Linked DNA regions of Homo sapiens. The protein of the gene in region 3 purifies or fractionates together with the protein of the main gene of each other region. This does not show direct contact. Each region holds a gene or a part of one and is shown on either strand. Other genes may lie near its edges.

What was found. Proteins that work in one complex are often made in the same cells at the same time.
Region 1: the proteins of SERPINC1 (region 3) and HR purify together in Homo sapiens (affinity purification with mass spectrometry; one large-scale study listed by BioGRID and IntAct). This does not show direct contact.
Region 2: the proteins of SERPINC1 (region 3) and HSPBAP1 purify together in Homo sapiens (affinity purification with mass spectrometry; one large-scale study listed by BioGRID and IntAct). This does not show direct contact.
Region 4: the proteins of SERPINC1 (region 3) and ZNG1A purify together in Homo sapiens (affinity purification with mass spectrometry; one large-scale study listed by BioGRID and IntAct). This does not show direct contact.

Annotation. Positions count from the first base shown.
Region 1 is NC_000008.11:22,114,011-22,117,510, reverse strand, and holds the end of HR (lysine-specific demethylase hairless), read left to right. Parts: intron 1-471; coding exon 472-636; intron 637-1,082; coding exon 1,083-1,211; intron 1,212-1,748; coding exon 1,749-1,811; 3' UTR 1,812-3,092; downstream 3,093-3,500. UniProt on the Homo sapiens protein: Histone demethylase that specifically demethylates both mono- and dimethylated 'Lys-9' of histone H3. May act as a transcription regulator controlling hair biology (via targeting of collagens), neural activity, and cell cycle.
Region 2 is NC_000003.12:122,783,832-122,787,331, forward strand, and holds part of HSPBAP1 (HSPB1-associated protein 1), read right to left. Parts: exon of another isoform or gene 2,578-3,500; intron 1-2,577. UniProt on the Homo sapiens protein: May play a role in cellular stress response.
Region 3 is NC_000001.11:173,910,828-173,914,327, reverse strand, and holds part of SERPINC1 (antithrombin-III isoform 1 precursor), read left to right. Parts: intron 1-2,313; coding exon 2,314-2,529; intron 2,530-3,436; coding exon 3,437-3,500. UniProt on the Homo sapiens protein: Most important serine protease inhibitor in plasma that regulates the blood coagulation cascade. AT-III inhibits thrombin, matriptase-3/TMPRSS7, as well as factors IXa, Xa and XIa. Its inhibitory activity is greatly enhanced in the presence of heparin.
Region 4 is NC_000009.12:169,057-172,556, reverse strand, and holds part of ZNG1A (zinc-regulated GTPase metalloprotein activator 1A), read left to right. Parts: exon of another isoform or gene 1-68; intron 69-384; coding exon 385-476; intron 477-3,500. UniProt on the Homo sapiens protein: Zinc chaperone that directly transfers zinc cofactor to target metalloproteins, thereby activating them.

The DNA of each region.
Region 1 (3,500 bases), on a different chromosome or scaffold from region 3:
TTGTCTCCCCAGGGACACACAGCTCTCTCCTCATCCACCACTTAGCACACAATTCTGGCCATTCCAAAGACTTCAGATGAAGAAGTCCTGGTAGACAGTTTATGAACTGGGATTATGCAGGACGTCTCCCTCGGATTTGCAGAAAGGGGTACCATTGAGAGAGGGAGGAGAGGGGCCGAGGTCACAGAGGCTGTTAAAGGCCTCCAGCCCCAGAAAAGCAGGGATTCAGTCTGCCCAACTGTAGGGCCTTGAATCCCTTCCTTCTAAGCTCCTTCCAGCCAAATGTGTGTTCTGCCAACCTGAGCTGCCCCAGCCCCAAACAAACTCAGCCATGCCCTCCCTGCCTGCCCTTCAAGACTTGACCCTTCGGCTCTTTTCTCCACCCCTGGCCTCTGGAAAGTCCATGCCCCATCCTCCTGCAGCCCTGCCCTTCCCTCCCCATCTCGCTCATTCCCCCTTCTCTTCTTTGAGGTGTGCCCGGCCGGGGCAGGCGCCCTGGAGCCTGGCGCCCCAGGCAGCTGCTACCTGGATGCAGGGCTGCGGCGGCGCCTGCGGGAGGAGTGGGGCGTGAGCTGCTGGACCCTGCTCCAGGCCCCCGGAGAGGCCGTGCTGGTGCCTGCAGGGGCTCCCCACCAGGTGCTTCCCAGCGGGCAGGGGCTCTGCGGGGAGATCAGGATGGCAGAAGCGACCCAATCAAGGCCGCAGGCATCCAACATCCCCTCAATACCCAAGAGCCGGGCAGGGCAGGGAGCCGCACGCTGCTGTGGGGAAGAGATAACGGGGGAGCCAAGAGGCCTTGAAGTCACTGAGCCCAACTGGGACTGGCGCCAGAGTCCACTCCTGGTCTCCTGGGCATGCTGATGTCAGGGGGCTCGCAGGGAGACTTTAGGGTCTCTCCAGCAGTTCTGAGTCCCGGTTTTGGCCACAGGCTTTGAGGTGTCCAGTGGTGCATCCAGGAATCTGCTCTCTGAGAGCCAGGGGTCGGGGGTGGTTGTCATTAGAGGAAGCGAACCTCAGGGACCAGGGGGACAGGGAGAGGATGTGTGATCTTGAGCCTCACTGTCCATGTCCCCCCGACACAGGTGCAGGGCCTGGTGAGCACAGTCAGCGTCACTCAGCACTTCCTCTCCCCTGAGACCTCTGCCCTCTCTGCTCAGCTCTGCCACCAGGGACCCAGCCTTCCCCCTGACTGCCACCTGCTTTATGCCCAGGTGAGTGGGATGTGGGCCAGCAGGCTGGGTGTGCTACCCAAGCCTCCCACCTCCCTGTGCCACAGCTGCAGTGGACATAGCAGATCCCACCCTGTGCCAAGCAGGCAGCCACCCTGTGCAGGGGCAGAGTATTCCTTTTGTTTAGTTTGTTTCATTTTGTTTTTTGAGATGGAGTCTTGTTCTGTCACCTAGGCTGGAGTGCAGTGGCACTATCTCAGCTCCCTGCAACCTCCGCCTCCTGGGTTCAAGTGATTCTCCTGCCTCAGCCTCCCAAGTAGCTGGGACTACAGGCGCCCACCACCATGCCTGGTTAAATTTTTTTGGGATTTTTAGTAGACGTGGGGTTTCACCATGTTGGCCAGACCGGTCTTGAACTCCTGACCTCAAATGATCCACCTACCTTGGCCTCCCAAAGTGCTGGGATTACAGGTGTGAGCCACCGCATCTGGCCAGAGTATTCCTTTTAAGTAGGGTGGGGGACAGCGGGTGGGCCCAGGAATGTAGTTGAAAATGCTTTGTCCTCTCTCTTTTTCCTAGATGGACTGGGCTGTGTTCCAAGCAGTGAAGGTGGCCGTGGGGACATTACAGGAGGCCAAATAGAGGGATGCTAGGTGTCTGGGATCGGGGTGGGGACAGGTAGACCAGGTGCTCAGCCCAGGCACAACTTCAGCAGGGGATGGCGCTAGGGGACTTGGGGATTTCTGGTCAACCCCACAAGCACCACTCTGGGCACAAGCAGGGCACTCTGTTCCCCTCCCCCTTAAGCCAACAACCACAGTGCCACCAAGCTCACACCTGTCCTTCTCAGGCTGGCATCTCCCCCACCCTGTGCCCCTTTTCATGGTACCAGGCCCGCACTGGGGGCAATTGACTTCCTCCAATCCCCACTCCTCCGAGACCCAGGAGACAAACAGCCCTTCCTTGGGGAAACTTGGGAATCATTCTGGCTTAAACAACACCTCCTCCTGCTGCTCACTCCCGCTGAGCCCACTCTACTGCCCCAGCTCCGTTTCTACCACCGCATCCTCACTGGGCTCACTGCAGGCATGCTGAACAAGGGGCCTCCAACCTTCTGCCCTCCTGCCAAAAGATCTGGGGAGTGTGAGGAGAGGGTGGCATCAGGAGCTGCTCAGGCTTGGCGGAGGGAGCGGCATGGGCGATGTCACTCAGCCCCTTCCCGGTCCGCCCGCTTCCCTCCTTCATGATTTCCATTAAAGTCTGTTGTTTTGTGACTGCTGCCAGTGTGGTTGGCCCTGCCCCTGCAGGCCACATGGTCCAGGGAGGGAGGGGGACATGGAAATCTGCCTTAGAGACAAATGGAGTAGGGCAGCCCGGAGCTGGGGCCCAAGGGACAGGACACCACTGCCTGCTCTTCGTCTGGGGCCTGGGGCCTTGCCTCCCACTGAGGAGACTTTGGGTGGGGTGGGGGGCTGTCCCCCAAAGATGCTCCTGAGTGCAAGAGCAGGCAAGGCAGAGTCCTGGGGCACAGCCACGAGGTGACCTCCCTGTGCAGAGACTCCCGAGCCCTACTCCACCCAGCAAGCTCCAGTCCGCCCCATCTCTCCCGTCTACCCTGACCTGGAGATCCAGAAGTATGGCCCAGAAGAGCCCTTGCCCCGCCTGTCTGCCCTTGGTGGCAGTGGCCATGGCCGACGCCAGGCCCAGCCACCCTGGGACTGAGCCTGACTGCTTCAGACAGCCGACCCCTCCTTGTCCCCGCTCCACGCCCGCAGCCTCCTGGTGGCGCTCCGCCCTCTCCCGCTTCCTTTGTGTATCTCAGCCCTACAAAGAAAAACACTCCCACTCTTGTCATACCTAATTGTTCCTGCTGTGGTTTGGGGAATTTTTTTTATTAAATAAAGTTTTTTATTATAAGGGTAATATACTTTCAGAACATTCAGAAAATAAGAAAGTCACCTTCTAGCCCATCATTACACACCTCCAACTACTATGAGTATTTTGGCATATTCCCTCCCAGTGCTTTCCCCAAGGATTTGCTGTGCACATAGCTGGATTGCTGTGTTTTGTCCTTGGTTTCTTTCTTTCGACACCATATCATAATCATTTTCTGTGTTGCTACCTAATCTTCATTTTAAATGACTGCTTATATTCCATTAAGTGGCTTTGCCATGATTTACAAAACTATGCTTTATTTAAAAAAAAAAATGTAGGGCTTCTTTCATTGTTTGGAGAACTCAGTTATTTTCATTTTTTTATGGGATAAAGAGGAGAAAAGAAAAGAAAAAACTGAGAACTCTACAGTTTACTTTGCTTTTGTTTTCATTTAAT
Region 2 (3,500 bases), on a different chromosome or scaffold from region 3:
TCTTTTTTTTTTTTTTTGAGACGGAGTCTCGCTCTGTCGCCCAGGCTGGAGTGCAGTGGCGGGATCTCGGCTCACTGCAAGCTCCGCCTCCCGGGTTCACGCCATTCTCCTGCCTTAGCCTCCTGAGTAGCTGGGACTACAGGCACACACCACCATGCCCAGCTAATTTTTATATTTTTAGTAGAGATGGGGTTTCACCATGTTAGCCAGGATGGTCTCAATCTCTTGACCTTGTGATCCACCCACCTTGGTCTCCCAAAGTGCTGGGACTACAGGCATGAGCCACCATGCCCAGCCTTTTCAATGCCTTTTACCCAAAATAATCAATATACCAAAGTGGCATATTTGGGGGTGGCATATTTTGATCCCTACACTATGAAAAGCTATAATATATTCATGATAAATAGTATTCTGTTTTTCATGGGATATAAATTGGAATCATCCTTTGGGAAACAACTGGGAAAAATGAAAGAACTGTTCATTATCTCAGTAACTCATGTTAAAGGAATTTACTGTAACAAATAATTAATCATAAGCTATGTACAGCATACACATACACACACACAAATGTCTACTACCACACTATAACAACAAAAAATGTAAACAACCTGATGCCCCAAAGCAGAAAAATATTTACTAAATTATGACAAGGCAATCCCATAGTATACTATATCCACTAAAAATGAGGGCTGTCTAGAAATATGTAGAGATATGAGGTGGGAAGGGAGAGTTGGACCTGAAGTTGACTCAGAGAGCTATTGCAATAGCCAAGCGATAAGTATGATACAGGCCTGAACAACAGGGGTGGCAGTGAGTAAGTCAGATATGGTGAAGATGAAGAAATACTAAGAGAATAATATCAAAGGCTATTACAACCAGAGATGTGGGGTGGGAGTCAGATGTAGCCAAAAGACTGAGGTGTCTAGACTTGGTGACTTGCCATAAGAGAAGTCAGGAGCAATAGCTCATTCTTTTGGGAAGATGAGTAGCTTGATTTTGAACACAGGCATCATAACAATACCATACATTTAACTGTTTAATGCTTCACTGTTTACAATGCACTTTTACAGACATTAAAAGTGCTCATGTGATCTTATAAGAAGCCTGTAAAACAGGCAGAGACGGTAATTCATTTCCATTAATTGAAGGAAGAAATGGAAGCTTAGATGTCAGAGGACTGGAACCAGATTTATCAGGTCCCCTCAGTCCAAGTCCAGTGCTCTTTCCACTGCACAATCCTATTTCTAGAGAATTGACTGTGTGATTTAACTAGGGCTAAAAACTCAGAAGAAAAAATATAACCTGAAAGGATACACAGGAAAGCTCAAGATCAATTCATAGATAATCATTCACATGTGCTCCAGGGAGAGAGGAATGTTTTGAGGAGTGCATGAGTGTATGTGCACGTGCACTCATGGCAGGGAGTGCTAGTTGCCTGTGACAAAGACTCTTTGCTTGGCCAAACTTTAGTCAGGCTTTAATTCTTCTGCTAGGTCCATCTATGCACTTCCTTGTAAAACCCAGTTTTAGGAAAGAACCTTGCTAAGTCAGTTTAGCAAGAATTGCCCCCATCCCTGATATCTGATCAGGTTCTTCACCCCCAGCCAACCTCCAGGTGGTATCTGATCACCTTGGCCTGCCTTCAGCAAGAATCCTGTTAGGTTGGTTTTTCCAGATTTCCCCTTACCCCTGATGTTTCCTCTTAGTAATTTCTTATCCACTGACTCTGCTCCTTGGCTGTAAATTCTCACTTGCCCATGCTGTCTTTGGAGTTGGGCCCAATCTCTCTCCCCAGCTGTGGGACCCCGTTACAGTAGTCCTTACATCTATGGTGATGGTCCTGAATAGTCTTCCTTACCATGCCTTAACAAGTGTCACTGAATAATTTTTTATTTAACTTCTACTTACCCAATACTCATTCTCTTCTTCCTTACTAAAGAACTTTGGGCAACAGGACTGACTGAAAAATTTTATTTCCCAGACTTCTTTGCAGACAGGAGTAGCCAAATATAGATAGATAGATAGATAGATAGATAGGGAATATATATCTATAATTTCCATGTGTGTGCGTGTGTGTGTGTGTGTGCACGCGCGCACATATGGAAGTTGCGAGTCAGCCTTTTTGCCCTCATCCTTTTCTATATACTGCCTGAAAAGCAGACATGATGATTAGCCCTCTTGAGAGACAAATGAAAGGTCCAGGAAATCGCAAACCTTAACCAAAAGAATGCAAATATGTTCATCTTTGTGCTACTGAACCAACTACTACCTCCTGAATCCTTTTAGATTAAAAAAAAAAACAAAATTCCTTCTAGTCTAGACTGTTATTAATTCATAGCTGGTATAACACCTTGCTTTCTGAGGCCATCATTTTCAAGGATAACCATATTCTCCCTCTACACTGTTCTGTGGCTTGGGCTGGATGAATCATGGCTGGTCTGACACACTGTAGCATTCTTTCAGTTCCAAGCTTGTAAAATATTCAACCTTTGAACATTTTGCTTCTGGAACTTTAAAGGGCAGAGAAAAACAGAAGCATGAGTTACTTTGGGGTAGCGATTTATTTATTCTACTTACCTTACATTAGAGCCAATAGATCACATGGCTTTGATTATTCCCAAAATGGTTCATACTTGGGTAGATATAACTGGGTAGCCTTCTATAAATATGGACACAGGCGACAGTAACACATGAGTAGTATTTTGACAAAAAAGCTATAAAGAAGTAAATATTTCTTCTCTAGCATAAAGTTAAATTTAAAAAATGTAATTATCTGATCTAAAAATCCCACACATCCCAGAGATTATTTAATAGGAGACCTCCAACACTAAAATTTGCTGAGAGAGTGCCTGGCCTAGTGACTGGTATATATTAAATGCCAAAACATTTGCTAAATGAATGAGAGCACTATGAAGTGTGTGCAAAGCAGAGTAGCAGGATGTTCACCATAACAGGAAATTAGCATATTTACAGAATTTCAGGCCCATCGTGAAATAAAACAATCAGCTGGTTGTGAGATAAAACTAATTTAGCTTCTGATAATTTAATCAACAATAAACTGGGCCATTAAATTAATGAATTTAAATGTTACAATTTCCTTTAAAGAAGAATGCAATGCTACCCTGTATTAGTTAAACAGCCTATGGATGCACCCAGTTATTCCATGCTAATAATATTTTGCAAAGAGCTATAAAAATTCTGAAGCAACCTCAACAGTCTTCAAAGGATAAGGGTATTTAGGTCTAAACTTGCAGCAGGTAGTAATTTTTAACTAGATGATTTAGAAACTACTGAAAAAAAACAGATTAGTGATCTGGGTGTTACCCAATAGTTTTTTCTCTCTCCAAATGTAGGATGTTCTCCAGTCAATTTATTACAGCCTGAGTTGCAACTAATTCTTTGGAGATAGTGAAACATCATCAAAAATAAATTGCGTCCTTCTCAGTAATTTTTTAAAATTAATGTAAAGTACAAGATAATTTGAAACCTAATTTCTCTGA
Region 3 (3,500 bases):
TCTTTTGAGCACCTTAAAATGGGGGAAGGCTTGTATCTTCTCTCAACTTCTTTTCAGTAATTCTTTCATCTATATGTTTACTCATTAATTTGATCATTTATTTATTTATTCATTCAGCACTTCCTCTGTGCCAGGCAATGTGTAGTGCCAGTCCCTCCTCTGGTGGAAGAAGAGTAGCTTTACCATATGGTGACATCAGGCATATAGGCTCTCGTGGAAAAAAATTCTAGGATAGTATTTTTTTTTTTTTGAGATGGAATCTCGCTCTATTGCCCAGGCTGGAGTGCAGTGGTGCAGTCTCGGCTCACTCCAAACTCTGCCTCCCAGGTTCAAGCAATTCTCCCACCTCAGCCTCCTGAGTAGATGGGATTACAGGCACACGCCATCACGCCCAGCTAATTTCTATATTTTTAGTAGAGATGGGGTTTCACCACGTGGCCAGACTGGTCTCAAACTTTTTTTTTTTTTTTTTTGAGACGGAGTCTCGCTCTGTCATCCAGGCTGGAGCGCAGTGGCACGATCTCAGCTCACTGCAACCTCTACCTCCCGGGTTCAAGCAATTCTCAGCCTCAGCCTCCCGAGTAGCTGGGATTACAGGCCCCCGGCACCATGCCTGGCTAATTTTTTTTCTTCTTAGTAGAGATGGGGTTTCACCATGTTGGCCAGGCTAGTCTTGAACTCCTGACCTCGTGATCCACCTGCCTTGGCCTCCCAAAGTGCTGTGATTACAGGCGTAAGCCACCGCGCCTGGCCTCAAACTCTTGACTTCAAGGGATCGGCCTGACTTGGCTTCCCAAAGTGCTGGGATTACAAGCATGAGCCACTGCACGGGGCCTAGGATGGTATATTGAGACCAGGGGCCCAGGAAAGCCAAGAGAAGCCTCAAGGACGTGAGAGTGTTTTCTGGCTCTGGGAAGTATGGATCATTTCAGCTCAGTGACTTAGTTCCCACCCCCTTCCCCCCACTGCCTTTTGTGGGAGGGAAGTAGGGCATGATAAGATGAAATGTCATAGATTGATTGATCACTGTTGGCCTCTGGGGCTATGACAAGTCATGGATGGAAACACTAGATCTTTAATCTGTCCTTGGCTTGGCTGCATGACAGTCTTTCTTCAAGTTGGATCACACTTTGGAAGCAGAGTTCATCAATAGGGAGGCATGAGTCCCTTCAAGATGGTATACGGTGCTTATTTGAAACTTGGACACTAAAGTCTGTGGGTCTTAGGAGGGTTCCTTCTATTCTAGTGGTCAATTTCCATGGAACTTCATCACCTTTGCTCAGGGCTCTGGGGTGAGTTAACCCAAGTCTTCACTCTTTGAAAGAAATTGTAGATTTAAAAACTCTGAAGACACATAATACTGCCTTCTCTGGGCCCTTCAGTCATTTTTGTATACATTGGTACTGGTCTCAAAGTACTTCCATATCACTCATGTCTCTGTCCCCAGGTAAGATCTTAAATGTAACCCTTCCTACAAGAAGAACAGAACAGAACACTGCTTCCAAACCACACATGTTCCTTTGGTCCTCCCCTCTACACAAACGCCATGTGTTGGGAAAGCAGGGTGAGACTGAATCTCTCTGGAGAAAAGAGAGATTCAGCACCAAGCTTTTGATCAAAAGCATAATCCCCCCCTAAAAAAAGTGCCTATTGGAGCAAAATCAGGAAAACCAAAGGCAGAGAACAGATAAAACCAAAAGGCCTTTTGTAGCCTGAGGAGAGAGCATGGAAAGGGCAGGAGGGGAACAGCCTCACCCATTTTGCCTTGGGGATGGTGAAGGTGGGCATTGGGGGATTCCAACTTCAAAGCATGGATGACTTCTAAGTCCTTTTCAGCCCTGAGCTCTTAGATTCTGAGCCTGTTTAATCCCTTGCTGATAGATTCACTCTTCCTTTTTCACCCCTACCACCAGTATCCCAGAGCCTCCATGAGCAGCTGGCCCCAGTAGATGCCACAAAAGTGTTTGTTACGAGAAGGACACCGTCCTGATTCTCTTCTCTGTCCAGAATCACCAAGAGGACTTTTCCCATTCCAGCAAGAAAACGTCTGTGTGTTGATCTAGAGGCGTTTAGAGACTTTAGGTGGCAACCTAGTCTCTCTTTTTCCCTTTATCCTTCCTACCCTTCATTCTTCTTTTATCCTTTTATTCATCAGAACACAAGAGTTGAGCATTTATGCTGTCCCAGGTACTGTGCTTGAAGGAGTTAACAACTGAGGTGGCTATTAGTCAGAGACTGACCAGCATGTGCTCACCACCCATGTTAACTAGGCAGCCCACCAAACCCACCACCATTTTTTTTTGACTTCTATAGGTATTTAAGTTTGACACCATATCTGAGAAAACATCTGATCAGATCCACTTCTTCTTTGCCAAACTGAACTGCCGACTCTATCGAAAAGCCAACAAATCCTCCAAGTTAGTATCAGCCAATCGCCTTTTTGGAGACAAATCCCTTACCTTCAATGAGACCTACCAGGACATCAGTGAGTTGGTATATGGAGCCAAGCTCCAGCCCCTGGACTTCAAGGTGAGTTGCAGATGTTACCCCTGACCTCCGAGTTCTTCCTCTCCACTCAGAGATTGAGGAGGTGGAGAAACAGCATCCAAATTCACACTGCTTTGCTGCTGAAGACTGCTGGAGGGCTGACTAAAAGTTAGAACCCCTGCAATAGTTATTCTTACTTGAAACCTGAGAAATCAAAGGTATCCATGCTTGGATTGTAGTGACTGCCCAGAAAACATGAATTAATAATCAATTCTTCATTCCATCCACCAACTTCAAATATATACCAAAGGGTGTTTTGAAGATGCCAGTTCTACAAGATATCTTACTTAATTTGAACTGTTATCATGGTCAAATAAAGTTGGTACATGATGCATGTTACATTCTCCTCTTGGAGATTCATGAAGCACATGGGCCTATGAAGGTTCTGAGAAACTCTGCAACAAAGAAATCTGTTGGCTTTATTCAATCGGCATTCCTCAAATGTATTTGACTGCATGGGCATTTCTCTCCTCCATATAACCTGCCAACCCCATATAACCTGCCAACCCCATATAACCTGCAATCATTCATTGCTTCCCCTGGCACATGCCTTGGAAATTCTACTTTTGTGAGTTAAGGTTTTCCAAAGTCAGAGAAAATAATATTTTATCTTCTTTTTCCCAGACTATTTTCGCCTTCCTTCTTTTCATTTATTTCTTCCTATTTCTTTTTGTTCTTTTTCTTCTGATAATATTTATTAACTACAGGAAAGATTCATGGAACTATATTAGATATGTGAGGCTTCCCCAATTTGGGTTAGAGCAATGGCTTCTTAATCAAATGGTGGGAAAGGACAGAGGGATGGTGAGAAAAATAAAATGCTGCCTGGGAAAATGGAGAAGCCAATTGAATAGCACAGGTGAGTAGGTTTATTTTCTGTTCTCCTCAGGAAAATGCAGAGCAATCCAGAGCGGCCATCAACAAATGGGTGTCCAATAAGACCGAAGGCCGAA
Region 4 (3,500 bases), on a different chromosome or scaffold from region 3:
ATATGGTGTTTAATATCAGTGTCTCTTTAGCTATTATATTAAACTACTATAGTTAATACATTTTATCATTATTTTGTATGTTGGTTTTTAAAAATTTCATAAAGCTATAAAAAGATACTTGGTCAGATAAAGTTTCCTCTGCTTTTAATTTTGATAAAGTATTATGTATATGATTTCTTTTTACCTATTATATATATGCATCTATTGTTTTCTCACTGGTAAATATGGGACGGACATTTTGTTAGAAGGTTAGAAGTGAGTTAAATTTTCACATTCCCAAGGGTACTTTTGTCTCGGGTTGTTGAATATATTTTAAAGTGTTTATAATAATCACTTCAAAATATTTAGGTAATTAACTGTAAATTATGTTTTGGTATTCTCCAGGGACAGTGGCCTTAGAGCTATTGAGAATTTGATGCAAAAGAAGGGGAAATTTGATTACATACTGTTAGAGACCACTGGATTAGCAGACCCTGGTAAGAAGTGAGATTATTAATAACCAGAATATAGTTCTGTGATATATTGTAAATAGATGTATTAGAGGAATATCTAAAATGAGGATTAAAGCTTTTGTTAGTATTAAACCAAAAACTTTTTTTGGTTTAAAAGAGGAAAAGTACTCGGTTGTCATTTTCTTTGGCAGTTGAATGAATGAACAGAGTATTTCTTGGTACTTTTAAGCTGTTAATAGAATTTGAAGTTTTATTGATTGACTTAGGATTATTTGTAAGAACAGAAGTTGTTAAAAATAAGGACATGTAGGAAGAGCAGAGACGTTCTACCTCTAAGTACAGTTGTCCCTTGGCATCCATGGGGTATTAGTTCCGGAATCTCTGAGGATACCAAAATCTATTAATGTTCAAGTCCCTTACATAAAATGGTGTAGTATTTGCCTATAAGCTATGCACATCCTCCCATATACTTTAAATCATCTGTAGATTACTTATAATACCTAATACAATGTAAGTGCTGTGTAAGTAGTTATTACACTGCATTGATAAGGGAATCATGACAGGAAACTCTGAACTCTACTATGGAAAGCTACACAGAGTCAACCTGTTTCTAACAATGGGTTTCTGTTACCTTCTTACCAAGCTCTAATTCTTGATAAAGTCTGCTTATTTTCCCCAAATAACTTTTAGATAAAATCTTTATTTTCATTTTGCATAAAAGTTAGTGCTTATTCTGTGAATCTGACCCATACCATTATTTTTTTTTTTGATCTGGGTCTCTGGCATTGGGGCGATTTGTAAAACTATATTAAAGTATTTGGGGGTAATTTACTCAACAGGTCATAGTTGTCCAAAAGAAATATTGAAGTATCCTGAGAGTTCAAATGTGATCAGTGGTTATTGTACTTAAAACAATTACATAATAACATCATCCCCATGTTTTCAAAGTAGTATTGAATTAGGCTATTTTGGTCCTTATAGTAGGCATGGGTTTTCATACCTTTCTGATAAATCTGACTGATGATAGGACTTGGACTAATATGTTGGTGTTAAATATTTGAATCTGGTAAGAAAGAAAAATATATTGTATGCTTTTATTAGAAATAGCAAATATCAGTTTATTTCATCATAGCCAGTTTTGCCATTTTATAGACAAAAACTTGATACTTTTGAGAGTTTAATTAAACACGATTCAGCTTTTCAGAGGAAGAAAGAAAAACTAAAGATCACAGAGAAAGCTTTTATACAAATTGTAGTTATAAAAAATGTTAATGTTTCTTGCTTCTAACTTTCTTTACAATAAAGATTTTATTGTTTGGGTAAAGATGGAACATTCATTGTAAAAAAATTTAAATACCTAAAAAATACAAAGAAGAAAGTTGAAAAGTAATCATCTCACTTTTGTGATATACAAGTAGGGGCTGGGCATGGTGGCTCATGCCTGTAATCCCAGCACTTTGGGAGGCTGAGGCAGGTGGATCCCTTGAGGCCAGGAGTTCAAGACCAGCCTAGCCAACATGGTGAAATCCAGTCTCTACTGAAAATTCAAAAACTAGCCAGGCGATGTGGCGCACCCCATAATCCCAGCTACTCAGGAGGCTAAGGCAGGAGAATCGCTTGAAAGCTGGGAGGCGGAGGTTGCGGTGAGCCGAGATCACGCCACTGCACTCCAGCCCAGGCAACAGAGCAAGACTGTACACACACACACACACGCACATGCACATGCGCACACACACACACACACACACATTCATACACACACACACACAAGTAGGTACATTTTATTCCAGGGATCTCTCTATGCCAGTGCTACTTGGTAGTATGTTGAATGGCAGCCTCAGCCTCAGCTGGGAGCTTGTTAGAAAGGCAAATTCTTGACCAACCCAGATCTACTGAATCGGAATCTCTAAGGGAGGGGGTCAAGCAAGCTGTTTTTAATAAGCCCTTCAGGTGATTCTTATACTGTACAGCCATACCGCAGGGATATTGTGGGCTTAGTTCCATATCACTGCAGTAAACTGAATATCACAATAGAGTGAGTCACACACATTTTTTTGTTTCCCATTGCATATAAAAGTTATGCGTTTTGGCCGGGTGTGATGTCACAGGCCTGTAGTCCCAGCTACTTGGGAGGATCACTTGAGCTCAGGAGTTTGAGGCTGCAGTGAGTCATGATTGCACCACTGCACTCCAGCCTGGATGACAGCATGAGACCCCATTTCTTAAAAAAAAAAAAAAAAAAAAAAAAAAGCTGTGTTTATACTATACTGTAGTCTATAAAATGTGTAATAGAATTGTCTAAAAAACATACATACCTTAATTAAAAATATTTATTGCTAAAAAATGCTAACAATCATCTCAGCTTTCAGCAAGTCATAGTCTTTTTGCTGGTAGAGGGTCTTGCCACGATGTTGATGGGTGCTGACCAATCAGGGTAGTAGTTACTGAAGGTTGGGGTGGCTATCGCAATTTCATAAGATAATAATGAAGTTTGCTGCATTAGTTGACTCTCCCTTTCATAAAAGATGTCTCTATAGCACATGATGCTATTTGATAGCATTTTACCCACAGTATGACTTCTTTCAAAATTGGAGTCAGTCCTCTCAAACCCTGCTTTATCAATTAAGCTTCTGTCATATTTTAAATCCTTTGTTGTCATTTTGACAGTGTTCATAGCATCTTCACCAGGAGTAGATTCCATCTCAAGAAACCACGTTCTTTTCCCGTCCATAAGAAACAACTTCTCATTAGTTAAAGTTTTCTTATGAGATTGCAGGAATTGAGTCACATCTTCAGACTCCCCTTCTAATTCTAGTTCTCTTACTGTTTCCACCACATCGGCAGTTATTTCCTCCATTGAAGTCTGGAATCCCTCAAAGTCATCTGTGAGGGCTGGAATCATCTTTCAAACTCCTATTCATGTTGATACTTTGATCTCCCATGAATCACAAATGTTCTTAATGGCATCTAGAATGATGAATCCTTTCCAGAAGGTTTTCAATTTACTTTGCCCAGATCCATCAGAGGAATCACTGTCTATGGTAGCTA